4 linked regions of the Homo sapiens genome follow. The protein of the gene in region 2 interacts with the protein of the main gene of each other region in a biochemical or structural test. Each region holds a gene or a part of one and is shown on either strand. Other genes may lie near its edges.

Region 1 (2,933 bases), on a different chromosome or scaffold from region 2:
TAAGGGAATGGCTTGGTTGCCCCCTCTTTATTTTTTTTTAGGAAACGGTCTCTTAACAGTGGGAGGATTTAGATACCAGACCCTCCTCCTTTCCCTTTTCATTAGGTGGAGTCTCAGTCTCACCCTGTCAACCTCACCACCCTGGCACATGTGTTGTCTTGTGACCCTTCACAGCCTTTGGGGAAGGAAGTGGGGGCATAAACTAGAAATTAAATATATCAGTATAGTGGTCTTCTTTTTATAGGATGGCATCATGAAAAAGGAGGGAAAAGATAATGTCCCTGAGCATTTTAGTGGAAGAGCAGAAGATGCAGACTCTTCATCCGGGCCCCTCGCTTCCTCCTCACTCTTGGCTAAAATGAGAGCTAGAAACCACCTGATTCTGCCAGAGCGTTTAGAAAGTGAAAGCGGGCACCTGCAGGAAGCTTCTGCCCTGCTGCCCACCACAGAACACGATGACCTTCTGGTGGAGATGAGAAACTTCATCGCTTTCCAGGCCCACACTGATGGCCAGGCCAGCACCAGGGAGATACTGCAGGAGTTTGAATCCAAGTTATCTGCATCACAGTCTTGTGTCTTCCGAGAACTATTGAGAAATCTGTGCACTTTCCATAGAACTTCTGGTGGTGAAGGAATTTGGAAACTCAAGCCAGAATACTGCTAAACAACATTGCTTCCTAAACTTTCAAGTCCCTTTTTCTAACGGGCATTTCTGATTATTAATTTATTATTAATAATCATGTTTGTCAATGGAAGTTGGCTGCACTTGATGTTTGTTTGCATGATGTCTACCTCAGAATTAAAACTTTAAGGAAGAAGAAACTCTTCTCTGAAAGTTAAAAGTTTTAATAATGCTAGCTAAAGGAGAAAATACTTGGATTGATTTTTTTTTTTTTGGCAATCTAATTATATTGTAAATCAGGTACCTAACAGTTACTCCTTGGAGCACATTTGTTCCTTTACCCAAAAGATGCTGTCAGGGAGCACAGTTAGAAGTTTGCAGAACAGAAATCTCAATATTTTTTTTTATTGGTGCTAAAAACAGGTCTTACATTCAGTCAGACCTGTTCAATAAGTTCATCAATATCTGATAACAGCATTATTTTGATGCTTAAACTTTAAACATTTATATTTACCATTTGCCACCCACAAAGGTCAGGTTTGTTATTTGTTGTTTGATAATTATATTAATTTTCTTGGAAAGATCCTCTTTTCAAGGTACTGGTAAATTGGTGAGTATTTTTATTAGTAAAGCATGAAATAGTATGGTAATAAATGATAAGACATGTATTTGTGGAAAGCTGTAGGGTATTCAGTTTACCCTGGCTTTCCTTTAAGCAGAGGGCATCTTTTTCTCTCCTACAGTCACAAAATGTGTTATCATTAAAAAAAATCAAATTAAAGCCAAAAGTAGGTACATAAAAACCACACACATGCATGCACACAAACATCACTGCAGCCCACAGCAGACCCAGCCGTTGTTACCATGAAGTGACACCACTCCAGGCCTCTCTTGTCTGCAGGCTGGCAGGCTGTCTTCTCTCCAGTTGCCTTCGTCTTGCGCCTGCCTTTGCATTCCTTGCGACGGGCTTTCTTGTTTCTGCGGTTTGGATTCCAGCCAAGGCTGTTTGTATCTCACTACTGTTTATGTGTTTGTGGTTCTGTGATGGTGTTGCTTTGATCCTCAGTTTATTTTCTTACCCATGTTTTTCTTGTTTCCTTCTCAGGATGATTTTATCATCTCATCTTTGAAGTGTTGTTTTCCGAAATTCATCGTATTCCTGAAATTTCTTCTTAGCTGTCTTAGTGCAGTTTGTTTCTTGGATTTGTATTCTCTGGCATGCTCTTTTCCTCTCTCTCATTTTTCTGTAGTATGCCTGCCCTCCTACCCTGCTATTTCTTTACATCTCTCTCATGCTTAACATGGATAGCTGTGTCCAGATCTTCTGTCTGCTCATCCATGTGACTCAGAGAGGAGGGTTCTGGGCAGGGGGGCCTTGCCGGACTGCATGAGAGGACATGAGTTTTGCTTTCTCTGCTCTAATATTTTGCTTAAGCCAAGAATCCTTTTCTTAGAGATGTTCTATATGATTCCTGTCAGGATTTTCTAGTTTTTTTTGGATTATAGCTTGTTCATTTCTTTTGTTTTTAGTTTGGTTTATATATAATGAGGGAAGAAGATGATTACATTATTTTTGTCACTTTGCCATCATTGTTTAGAAGTCATAGAAAGAATTTTTAAATAGGCCAATAAGTCTTAAACTTGAGTACTTGGCTTAGAAGAAAGTCAAAACTCCTTCCTTTTTGACTAAGTGGTTTGTTTCTGGGGAGCTCTTAATTTCTATTTTTATAATCATTAGCCTATAAGGAAATTGTGTCTTCCTTGTTCTCAGGGTGATCTGCTGACCTTGTTCACTCATGAAGCATTTGGGTATCATACTTATAGTGTCTGAAACATAAACTGTATTGAGCTAGACAAGGTATAGCCTCCTCTTCAAGTAGCAAATACTATCAAAAGCTATAATGCAGTAGGAGCAAGGTGGTCCTTGTTCCAGTTTTTGTCTCAGTTCTGCTGCTGATGTACCATGATCTTGGGAAGGTGGTGTCTCAGTGTGGAGATCTGACACATTGTTACCGTGCCTCCTGGCTGGAGGGACTTGGAGAACAATGCAGTTAAGTAGAATGGTTTTAACAATACAGAGAAATTTATTCATTTAGATAAAAATCTGATTTTTAGAACTTTAAAAGCTTTGTACAGTGTAAATAGATTTAATGTATTTAACATGCTTTATCAGCACAAATAAAGGATTTTAAAATTTTGTCAAAAAATTAAATGTTAATACTATCACCATTAAAAATGTTCAAGCAATAGTCTGCCTCCCCACCCCCACACCATCTTGCACCTGTTCCACAGCTAAGTACAGCCCTAGGTT
Region 2 (4,215 bases):
AAAACCTTTAAAGCAGACAGTTGGGGGCATTGTATTTGATTTAAAAACAATTTTAGTAGTAAAATAAAACCTAAATCAAAACTATAAAGAGGTTGTATGAAGCGTACAGCAAGGTTTGGAAGTCTGATGCCCTGGCAACTGAATTGCCCCTGAAGGTGCCAATAATTTGTGAGCATTGTGTGTAATTTCTTCTTAGAATTATTTCTTAGCTTGTTTAATATTAAAATTACATTAGATAGGGGGCCAGGCATGGCGGCTCATGTCTATAATCCCAGTACTTTGTGAGGCTGAAGCAGGAGGATCGCTTGAACCCAGGAGTTCGAGACCAACCTGGGCAACATAGACCCTGTCTCTACAAAAAATTGTAAAATTACATTAGATAAAATTTGGGATTAAAATGGTGAGTTTTAGCAACTATACTGACAGGTGGAAGATAAGTATTGTCTAGCAATCCCACAGGTTTGAGATTGTTTGGTTAGTTTTGTGGGAAGGAAAAAAATGTCTCACTTGGAGGGCTGGGTTTTGTTTTTTAGTAGTTGTTACTACTAAAGTCTTTGGGCTAGGTATAAGGACAGGGCTGATATTGATACATAAAGAGTGATTTCACTGTTGAGCACTGGCAAATTCTACAAATTGAAGTTTTTAAGAGAAAAACCATAAAAACATTTCCTTGGCTTACACATTTCTCAAAGTTTTATTGCCATATCTTTAGACAGATCTATAGTACTGATTTGTAATTATATTTTACTCCTGGGATGCAACAGGCTTTGAGTGAAGTATAGGGATTGCACATCAGTTTATGTGTAGATTTTTTTAACTATACATTTCACCTTTTAATTCTAAGGCAATAAACAGTTAATGAAGGGATTTTGAGTTAATGTTTATTATTGACAATAATTCCTCATTCTGCAACTTCAATTATGAACAACTCTAACTTATTTCCAGAAAGTAAACATCCCGTCCTTACACCAAATATAAACAGTAGCCAGATGTGGTGAGGCTGAGGCGAGAGGATCGCTTTTGAGCCCAGGAGTTCAAGGCTGTAGTGCACAGTGATCGTGCCTGTGAATGAATAGCTACTGACTGCAGCCTGGGAAACATAGCGAGGCCATGTCTCTAAGGAAAAAAAAAACCTAATTGATTGTAGTATAGAAATAAGTTGTTTTTGTGAGTGTGTTTATGTTTTAAGATTACTTTCTGGGCTGATACTGGTTTAGCAGATGTTCGTGCTACAAGAATTTCACTGATGAAAGCGTTATATTCTTTATTCTTACAGTAAAATTGGGGAAGAACAATCAGCAGAAGATGCAGAAGATGGGCCTCCAGAACTCCTGGTACGCATTGGCTTATAGAAGATGAAATGTCATATGCAGATTGGATTGTCATTGATCTCTTTATTTCGAGAATGGGTCAGAACTTCGAATTCTAGCTCTTGCAGATGGTTTCAAAATGGAGGCCCTGAAGGTTATTGCAACTGGGCTTTGACATTTATCAAAAATAGTAAATGGAGCCCAGTAGGTTTTTATGAATGTTTCACTGAGAATGGTTTGAGGTCCTGGAAAATAGTATATAGTAATTTCTCACTGATTTCAACTCTGGTATTTGTGATGGTTTGGGGATGGGGAGTGAGTATAATTGCTATTCAGTTGGCAGTACTTAACATTTCCTAACAGTATAGAAAAAATTTTAAATGCTTTTTAAGTTTCCTGCCCAGAAAAGGAGTGCTTTCTCAATCTTGATGTTAGCAGAGCCCACTATCTCCCTCCCATGCCTGATTGAAGCATCACGCATCTCCTTGGCCCTTTGAAAGCTTATGTGGTGGTATCTGCCCATCCTCATTCTTCCCGTCTGAGTCCTTCAGTGCTCACTTCGTCATTTTTCTATGAAGCATTGCCGGATTTAGCAATGGTTCCCTGTCCTTGCTCTGAATCCAACATTTGTCTCCTCCCATTATTTGGCCGATAGTCACTCATCACTCTGTCATTTACGATTTTAGTTCTAATGCCAGTACTCATTTTTGGCACACTTGTACTTTGTCCATGAGTTTTATTTATTCATTTTTTCTGTGAACCTATGGAGTATATTGAATGTCCACAAGTTTTCAAAGGTAAAGAAGGTCCTTGAGAGCAAGCCCTGCACACAGAAGATGTTCACTAAGCCCACCTTGTAAGAATGCTCCAGACCCTTTTATTTTGATGACGGCTTTACTGAGATATAATTTACATACCACACAGTTCACTTCTTTAAAGTGTACAGTTCAGTGGGGAGGGAGTGTTCTTGGGTTTTGGGGGTTTTTTTTCTTTTTTTGTTCTTGAAGTCAGTGGTTTTTAGTATATTCATAGACTTGTAAAACTATCACCACAAATCAATTCTAGAACATTATTCATCCCCTCCAAAAGAAACTATAGCTATCACCTCCCAATTCTCTTCTTCCTCCAGCCCTTGGCAACTACTGTGCTACTTTCTGGCACTATAAGATTGGGCTATTCTAGATATTTCATATAAATATGACTTTTGTCTTTTGGGACTGATTCTTTCACATAGTACAATGTTTTCAAGGTCTCCAGCTATTTTTTTTAGGGAGAAAGGAAAGCGTATTACTTTGTATATTATGCCTCTGCAACAATTCCAAGGTCCTTGAGAAAATACACTAGGATTTTGCTTTTTACAAGAGAGCTTGAAATCAAGGGACATTTGAGAGTAGTAAACTGGGCCTGGGCATGGTGGCTCCTGCCTGGAATCCCAGCACTTTGGGAGGCCAAGGCAGGTGGATCACGTGAGCCCACAAGTTCAAGACCAGGCTGGGAAACATGGCAAAACCCTGTCCTGTCTCTACCAAAAAAAAAAAAAAATACATAAATTAGCCAGGTGTGGTGGCGCGTGCCTGTAGTCCCAGCTACTTGGGAGACTGAGGTAGGAGAATCACCTGAGCCCGGGAAGTTGAGGCTGCAGTGAGCCATGATCACACCACTGCACTCCAGCCTGGGCAATGGGAGTGAGACCCTGTCCCAAAAACAAAGTAGTAAACTATTCCACCAGTATGCTTTGATAACTCCTGTATGTTTTCTAAGCCCCAGTGATCTTAAAATATATTCACCTGTGTACCCCTTAAGAGTACTCTCTCTGTCGCCCAGGCTGGAGTGCAGTGGTGCAATCTCAGCTCACTGCAACCTCTGCCTCCCGGGTTCAAGTGATTCTCCTGCCTCAGCCTCCCGAGTAGCTGGGACTACAGGTGCGCAACACCATGTCCAGCTAATTTTTGTATTTTTAGTAGAGACAGGGTTTCACCATGTTGGCCAGGATGGTCTTGATCTCTTGACCTCGTGATCCGCCCGCCTCAGCCTCCCAAAGTGGTGGGATTACAGGCGTGAGCCACCACACCCGGCCAGTATATTCACTTGTGTACCCCTTAAGAGTACTTTAAAAAGCTATTTACCTCTTTTTTTTTTAAGTCAAGGTCTGGTTCTGTCACCCAGGCTGGAGTGCAGTGGCGCAGTCTTAGTTCACTGCAACCTCCACCTCCCAGGTTCAAGCTGTCTTCCCATCTCAGCCTCCTGAGTAGCTGGGACTATGGGCACACCCCACCACGCCCGGCTAATTTTCGTATTTTTTGTAGAGACGGGGTTTTGTCATGTTGCCCAGGCTGGTCTTGAACTCCTGAGCTCGAGCCATCCGCCTGCTTTGGCCTCCCAAAGTGCTGGGATTACAGGCGTGAGTTTTACCCAGCCCCACCTCATATTTTTAACCCGATAAGATTATTCGGTAAAATAGATACATTGCATAATACCTAGTTGGCAGGCAGAGACCTCATTGTCAAACTAGAGTCAAATCAGACTTTGTCAGAAAGTGTGATGTCCCAGTTCCAAACAGTGTATTTAGTACTGTCCTTGTGAAGAAGTGTTTCGTTTAAATCTTAATTCTAAGATAAAAAAATAAGGCATAGTGCATTCCGACGAGGTTGTCTCTTGCGGGGAACAACTGCTCTCTTCAGAATTGTTTAGCAAAGCTCTCACCTTAGGCATAGCTTATGAGGGACTATCTGGAGCTATGCTTTTGGAGCCAGGGATTTTCTTTCACCCTGGTGCTGTCTGTGTACGTTGGAAAGATGGGCAAGAAGTATGCCTCTCTCAGTAAAGTGGAGAGGGGAAGAACCAGAAGACTCCTCAGGCCCCTTGTATAATAGAAGAGTATGTTACATGGCATATAACGGATTGA
Region 3 (3,857 bases), on a different chromosome or scaffold from region 2:
AGTTTCAGGGAAGAAATTCTATATTGTAGTGTCTATAATTATTGCTTTCTTTTGTTTTTGCAGAATACACTTTTTAAAGAACATCAGGATTTGGTAAAACAGCCAGTAAAAAAGCAATGAAGGAAAAAAAATGCACATGTAAATGCTCATTTCTAGAACAAAAGAGAGTGCGATTTTGACAATATCAGAAGGTTAATTAAGAAGTCTGTGAGTGATGATAAAGCTGGCACATTTTCATTACAGATTGACACAACTCAAGTCACAGGCATAGCTAATGTTTGCTCTATAATACTCTGATAAGTCAGAGAATCTAAGTGAGAAGAACTGGTATCTATGGTAAACATAGGGTCAAGAGCTAGATGCGGCTGAATAGAAAGGACATTTACTTTGCAGTTAGGTAAAGAAGCCTCTAGCTCAGACTAGCTGCACTGTTGTTATTTGTGTGGCTTGAACCTAGTAATCGGATTCAGAACTGGAATGGGTTCCTTCAGGGTACTTTACAAACGTTCAGGATGCATTTTAAGTGTAGTCTAGAAGGTGGTACATGGAAGAGCTGAGGGACTTGAGGATTATGGACTGCGAAAGGACTGTAGGTAGTCCTGTATTTTGGCCTGTCACCAATATAGAGACCCCTCCTCATCATAGTGTCATCCATTCTCTTTTTGAAGACCCAGGGTGAAAGAAAGGGGGTCACAGTGTCACGAGATAGCCCATTCCACGTGGGACAGCTCTACTGCTTTTGTGCCTGTCTCACTGAAAAAAAAAAAAAAACAGGGAAATTATCTAAAAACATATGTTTAGGAAATATACACACATTCACACACGTACACAGACACATATGCACACACTCACATATACACACACATGAACACGCTAACACACATGTGCATGCACATGCTAACACATGCACAAGCATACACACACATGCACACAGTCACAATATACACACATGCACATGCTCACAAACACATATGCATGCACACGCTAACACACATATGTACACATAAATGCTTGCAAACACACACACACGTACATTTTAGTGAATAGCACACATCTATGTACTCCTGTGGAGAGTCCTGTGGTTTTAATACCTGTTAAAGTTGGGCTCCCAAAGCAGTCATTAAACGTGTTGGAATGATGCTTTTTGCTTAGCTGTTTTGGCACATTTGGAAATCTGCAGTATTACCTGTTGATTAGTAGACAGTAATGTGGCTGTATTACACACCCAGTGATTAGTTTCAGAAACAAATAGCATGTTAATAGTCAAGGAATCTTTGAGATGTTCTTGAGGAAACCAAAAAACTTGATTTAATGACTTAAATTCCAGGAACATCCCACTGGGCTTAGAGCTCTTTGTCAAAAGTTGGTACCCAATATATGTAGAAATGTAAAGTGACCAAATGTATAACATTAAATCAAAGCCATTCCCAGTTTGCTGCATATTTTTTAATGAAACCTGAAAAATAAGAGTCACTATTTTTAAATTCAGCCATAAGGAAACTTTGCAACCTAATAATGTGTAAGGCATTTCTGAGGCCCCAAGTGGAAATACTGGGTCTAGAGAGACCTTTATGAAATAGAACAGGTTGAAACACCTTCCACCAGAAAAGTGTAAGACATTTGAAAAAAGATTGAGTCAGAAAAGGGAAATGTGTCCCATTTGAGAGACCAGAAAGGGAAACAAGAGTCCAGTTCCTGCTGTGTCCGTGCAGTTGCCACAGCTGCGTTCGCTGACATGTCGGCTTTAATGGAAGCAGTGAGGACACAATCTGTCTGGCACAAGCTGGTTTGGGTGTTGTCTCATGCTAAGAAGGCCCTGGACCTGATGGAGAGCCTGGACCTGTTCCCTGTCCTTATCAATGACAGACGGAGGGTGGAACCTGAATTTCCTAATGGAGGGATCCTTAGGGATTCCCTAAGCTTAATTTGTTTTTGACTGTTCCAGTCCTAAAGGAGGTGGGTCCTGGACAGGAGGGAAAACAGCCTCATGGCCCATGGGTCTCTGCCCAGGGAATTTCAAAGCTTCCAGCGTTCATACTTCCCTTACCCTAAGACAGCAGTGCTGATTCAGCTTGAGTGTGCATGAGAATCACCTGGAGAATTTATTCAACATAGAAGGCTGCTTCCCCACCCTCAATTTCTGATTCAGTAAGTCTGAGGTGGTGCCCAAGAATTTGCATTTTGAACAAACTCCCAGGTGATGCTGATCGGGGGTGGGCCTGGGTCTGCGCTGTGAGAATCACTTGCCTAAGAGCACTAACAAAGAAAAAAAGAGGACATAACTAGATCACCCACTTCCTAGCCAGCAACCAGAGCCCATCTCTGGCTGGGGAGAATGAAAGCGAAGGTGGGAAAAGAAGAGGCCCTCAACCAGGGGCAGCTCCTTTTCCCCACCTTGGCCTGGGAAGGCAGAGCTGCTCCTCGAGTTTGACGCTCAGAAGCATTAATTGTGATACTTTACTTTGCCTAAGCCGTGATGAAATAATTGAAGGCATCATAGCAAGAAGTTAAGCCCTAGGGAGGCTATTAACAATTTAGCATTTCCAGTTCATGTGGGAATGTCGATTTTACTTACCAAAGAGAATATTATGGATGTGTTTAGTGGAAGAAGCAGCAGAATCAGCTGGGGTCCCCAGTTGGCTTTGCTTTGACCCTCTTCCTGAAGGAAGATAAATGCAAGGGTGAGTCTCACAAAGACAGTGTGCTTTTTTTCTAAAGTAAATAGCTTCTTAGGCTGATAGAAATGTTTTTAGCTGTCTAATTCTGCAGGGGAAGCAGAGGTAGAGGGTGAACACAGCAAAGGTGAGGCCAGGAGGCCCAGGCAGCAGAGCAGGCCTTGTTTTCCAATTGTGAGACCAAGTCAGTTCATTGGCACCTTTCGAAAGCCCCATGTAGCGCTGCTGGGCTGGACCCTCCCCCAAGACGGTTAAGTACTGCTTAATGGATCAGTAGAAACAGGACCTTCTTGTTGGGCAGTGAAGACCACGGCAGGAGCAGCAGGGGGGAAGAGACAAATTCCCAGGAAAGACCACTGGATCAGGAGTCAGGAGATTAATTCTAATCTTCACATTGTGGTTAATCATCAGTGTAGCCATGGGCAAGTCACTTAATTTCTCATGGCCTCAGTTTCCCCATCTGTAAAATGAAGGGACAGACTTGATGATAGCTAGGGTTTTTTACAACTTAGAAAACAAAAACAAAAACAAAAACAAAAACAAACTATGCTGCCAGATAGTCAGATGAGACCTCACTTTGCCACACGGCCAGACACTGTAGAGATCTGGTCCTGCCGTCAGCTTGTTTAGGGCTAATGGGTTTGTAGACAAGTTTGCCAACAAGAGATTCATGCGAGGGGCTAGGCATGGATTAGGTTAGCAGTTCTCCCATTTCTTGCTGGAGGCCTGCTGAAGCACTTCAGGGTCTCTTCCCAGAGTAAGTGGCAGAGAATTTGAAATTTGATACTCCCCATACAAGGATCCAAGTACCTGTTGCGTTTATGCTGGGATCACAGAGATACCTGGGTTGCCTGTGTTTCCTAAGAAAAGGATGTCTGTTTTGGCAGCAAACTTAGTGAACGGCTGAGGCAAAAACAAGTGCAAAGATGGATTCTCAGATTTCTCATTGAAAAATACCATGACAAAATCTGTAGTAATTTTACGCCACACTCTCAATTCACTTGACGTAAACAGTCAAATGTAGACATACTTGTTTGTTAAGTCCGGTCTTCCTGCTTGTGTTGGTTCACTTTGTGGTGTTTATTTTGTTTTGGGTCAGAGAGGATGAAATGTCTCTGTAGATGTTCTCAGGCTAGGTGGTGCTTCCACCAGGGCTTCCCTCTGCAGGCCTGGTAACAGCAG
Region 4 (3,857 bases), on a different chromosome or scaffold from region 2:
TTGGATAACACTTAACATCTGAGGTTTTCTTCGGCCCTTGCCACTGCCACCCCCTCCCCCACCCCAGACAATCCCCTGCCCCGCCAAGACCAGGCTAGGGGAAGATTCCTTGGTTGACTGTGTACATTGCTGGAGCCGTCCAAAATGCTGAGTTTCTCTTTGGGAGAATGTGTTGCCCATTAGCTTTGAAAAAGAAAAAAAGTGGCTCAAAAGGAGCCTCTTAAAAAGCTGTGGCCACGAGAGGGAGTGAAACACTGTGAGGTGTGTGAGGGGTGGGGGCGGGGGCTGAGTACCTGCTGTGCGTCCGGCTCTGGGCCAGACCCAGACACAGCTGTTTGTGCCGACTCATCCTGCTCTCCCGGGCGGGCGGTGTGGCTGCCCATTCTACAGATGGGCAGATGGGCCGGTGTGGTGACACAAACTGGCCTCTACCTGCCCTGCTTCTCCCCAAGTGGAACCCAAGATCTTATTCTGCCTAGGGTCTCTGGGAATCCTTGGGGTCCTTGGGAATTCAAGGGCAAAGGGCCCTCTCACAAGTCTGTCCCCCCGGCATCTCGGCAGGGCCTGGCGTGAAAGCACTGTGGCCACGCAAACCAGGATGCTGACACAGACACATGTGGTGAGCAGCCGTGGCCTGGTTTCTGTGGCAGGGGCAGGAAAGGAGAAGGGGGGTGCAGAGCTGGGGCAGATTTGATTGGTCCCTGCTTTGTCACCAGGCATGTTGCAGGCTTTCTCTCGACTTGAATTGTGAAAGGAAAACTATTTTTATTGGGCAGGTTGTGTTTTTAATTGAAGCTGTCCCCACAGGCGGTCCCTGATGGAGCCACAGCTCTGCAAAAGCCATGGCCACAGCTCTGTAAAAGGCCACAGGCAGCCCCTGCTCCAGGGTCCAGAGCTTCCTGGGCTCCAGAGCTCCCTAGTAGGGTGGCCTGGAGCTTTAGTGTACCCTCCCTGCTGTGACAGGTGGTGACATCATAGGATCTGGCTTCCAAAAGGGAGTTCTGGTTTCTTACTGGACTTGTGCCTTAAAGGCACAAAGCAAAACCCAAAATCTCCTGGGAAGGAGTCGGAACCACTTGCAAAGACGCCGGCTCCCTTTTCTGGGCTGTGCTGGTCCCCAGGTGCTCAGGCCTCCTGTCCTGGTTCAGTAGATCTGTTCTGTGAGTCTGTGGAAGGCCCTGCTTGCTGAGCAGGGGGTGCCTGCTCTGTCTGGGTGGTTGCCTTGCTCTCGTGGCTTCCTGTCATTAGCGCTGCAGCCTCGGCAACCACTGGGGGGGCCATGCTATCGAAGATCAGCCTGAGTGTTTATTACTGGACGCGGTCAAGTTCCGTGGCACAGAAATCTGATCTCACCAGAGGCTCACCCAGGGCTTTGCTTAACCCTCTGTTGGCCCTACTTAGAAGTTGCTGAAGTAGATGAGACTCAGCTAGAGGACTGAGCCGCTCCCTCATGTGGCCAGGCCTGCTTAGCATCTTTGTATGGTGCTGACCAGGAGCTGTTACCATCCCCATTTTGCAGATGGAGAAGCAAGGGCTTGGGGAGGGAGAGTGGCTAGCCAGGGTGGCAGAACTGGGATTTGTCCTTGGTTGCCTCCTGAAAGGCCACCCCTCTTCCTGTGGAGCCACGCTGCCTCTGCCGACATCCACGGGAGGTCGAATGAGCTTTCCACTGCCTTGGCTCTGGGGGGCTCTGCCATCAGCAAGTCCTCATACATGCCACTAGGATCCTTATGAGGACTGTGTATGGAGGGCCTGCTATGTGCTGCATTGTGCTGGGCATGTGTGCCTTCTTGAATTTAACCCTCACAGCAACCCTAATACTTTATTCTCCTCACTTTGCAGATGAGAAAATGATGTTCAGAGATGTTGAGTTCTCACAGCTCACGTCTATCCGTCCGTCCATCCATCCATCCATCCATCCATCCATCCATCCATTCATCCCTGTATCCATCCATCCATCCATCTATCCATCCATCCATCCATCCATCCATCCATCCATCCATCCATCCATGCATCCATCCATCCATCCATCCATCCATCCATCCATCCATTCATCCATGTAGCCATCCATCCATCCATGCATCCATCCATGCATCCATCCATCCACCCATCCGTTCATCCATCCATCCATCCATCCATTTATTCATTCTTTAGCTTGAAGCCATTTGGAAGGCACCTAGCTTGTAGCACTGTGCACACACAGGAAGAGTCGGCAGGCAGGTCCCTGCCCTCGTGCAGCTTGCAGTCTGGTGGTGGGGAGGACAGGGAGTGGGGACCTGCAGAAGGGGAAGGAGGAGCAGGGAGGGAGGGAGTGGTGGAGGTGGGATTTGATCCCAGGCTCTCCATCCAGCACCTGCCACATCTTTGGCTTTGGCTCTTCTTCTGGCATTAAAGGCCTTTTTAGATTTTAGGCCTTGAGAGCTGCCAGGACTCAGAGCCTGTGAGCAACCAGTGCTTGATTGCAGTGCTCTGGGAGGGACGTGAGGAAGGGCAGTGTCCTGTTCCTGGGGCTGGGACTGCAGGAGGCTGAGCCCCTAGGACTGCTCCAGGAGACCCTTCTAAGGGGCCTGCTCTTACCTCCTGCCCTCTGCCACCATGTCTGGTACAGTTCTCTTTTTTCATTCGGTCCCAGTTCATTGGCCCTCACCAGCTTGCACCACCATGTTTCCCGATCAATTTGAATACCTGAAACTATCCTATTCTGGTGTTTTTTGTCCCTTTGTGATTTGTGTCCCTGGCACTGGGCTGTTTGCTTAAGTGTTTTTAGTGCCTGTTTAATTAGTAGTTGGAATGGAGTCATTAAGTTCCCAGTAACCCGTTAGGAAGAAGCAGGCCTTTGTAAAGATGGAATGGGCCTGCTGTCCTTACCTGGTTTTGTCCCTTTTCGGATCAGGATGCATTGAACCCATCTCTTCAAGTTAACATGGAGAACCCCAGTGTAAACGTGTTTCACACAGGTTAATTGCGTGCCTGTTACCGCATCTGCAGTTATTTATAGAAGGATGTGATTTTACGGGGGGAGAAAACCACACAGGTATGTGTGTTTGTGCACACCCTGGGCTGGCAGCATCCCAGGGGGCCCTGCCTCCCGGGACCCCAACCCTAGACCTCTTTCCAATGGTCGCAGTGGGGAGAAGGGACTCGGGGGTCCTGACTCTTTTTGACTCTGCTGAAGGAAGGTGGGGCTTTGAGTCTAGGCGTTCCTGGGAACTGAAATTTCTTCCCTGAGAAATTTCACATAGAGGATTTGGCACAGTGGCTGTGGGGTCAAGAGCCTCAGACTGTGTTCCTGGTCTGTGCTTCAGCTGGCCAGGGGCCCTAAAGAAGTCATTGCCTCAGTTTCCCCTTCTGTAAAAATACACGTATGTATGTATATGTGTATGTATGCAACATTTGAAAACGAGGCTCGTGTTATTTTCTGAGACAGGTCAGTGTGGAGCTGCTGTGGGTGGAGTGAGCATGGGGCTAGCTAGGTTTCCAGGGCAGGGCGTGGGACATTCAGAGAATGGTTTGGACACTCCTGGGCTTTGTGCCCCGCATGCCAGAATCCTTCCCTGTTCTGAGGCTTCCATGATTGGAAAGCGGTGGTCAAGTGTATGAGACTGCTTGGGGGTGAAGGCTGTTCTGCCCCATGTAGTCATTTCCCCTCTCCATCCCTCAGTTTCCCCATCTATAAAATGGAGCTAAGGATAGGACAGGCTCTGAAGGGTCGTTCTGGGGATCGTGTGAGATCATACGGGCCAGGTGCTGAGAACAACACCATGTGCTGAGTGAGCCCTGTCGAAGTTAGAGTCCATGCACGAGCGGAATGGGATTCACGACATTGAGACTCTGTCAGGTCTCACTTCAAGCTGGAT

The links. Proteins that work in one complex are often made in the same cells at the same time.
Region 1: the proteins of RBBP7 (region 2) and ERCC6 form a complex in vitro, tested with the Homo sapiens proteins (one large-scale study listed by BioGRID).
Region 3: the proteins of RBBP7 (region 2) and BCL11A form a complex in vitro, tested with the Homo sapiens proteins (one study listed by BioGRID).
Region 4: the proteins of RBBP7 (region 2) and BCL11B form a complex in vitro, tested with the Homo sapiens proteins (one study listed by BioGRID).

The regions. Positions count from the first base shown.
Region 1 is NC_000010.11:49,456,546-49,459,478, reverse strand, and holds part of ERCC6 (DNA excision repair protein ERCC-6), read left to right. Parts: intron 1-244; coding exon 245-664; 3' UTR 665-2,933. UniProt on the Homo sapiens protein: Involved in repair of DNA damage following UV irradiation, acting either in the absence of ERCC6 or synergistically with ERCC6. Involved in the regulation of gene expression.
Region 2 is NC_000023.11:16,846,363-16,850,577, reverse strand, and holds part of RBBP7 (histone-binding protein RBBP7), read left to right. Parts: intron 1-1,276; coding exon 1,277-1,334; intron 1,335-4,215. UniProt on the Homo sapiens protein: Core histone-binding subunit that may target chromatin remodeling factors, histone acetyltransferases and histone deacetylases to their histone substrates in a manner that is regulated by nucleosomal DNA.
Region 3 is NC_000002.12:60,470,155-60,474,011, reverse strand, and holds part of BCL11A (BCL11 transcription factor A), read left to right. Parts: intron 1-3,857. UniProt on the Homo sapiens protein: Transcription factor. Associated with the BAF SWI/SNF chromatin remodeling complex. Binds to the 5'-TGACCA-3' sequence motif in regulatory regions of target genes, including a distal promoter of the HBG1 hemoglobin subunit gamma-1 gene.
Region 4 is NC_000014.9:99,227,198-99,231,054, reverse strand, and holds part of BCL11B (B-cell lymphoma/leukemia 11B), read left to right. Parts: intron 1-3,857. UniProt on the Homo sapiens protein: Key regulator of both differentiation and survival of T-lymphocytes during thymocyte development in mammals.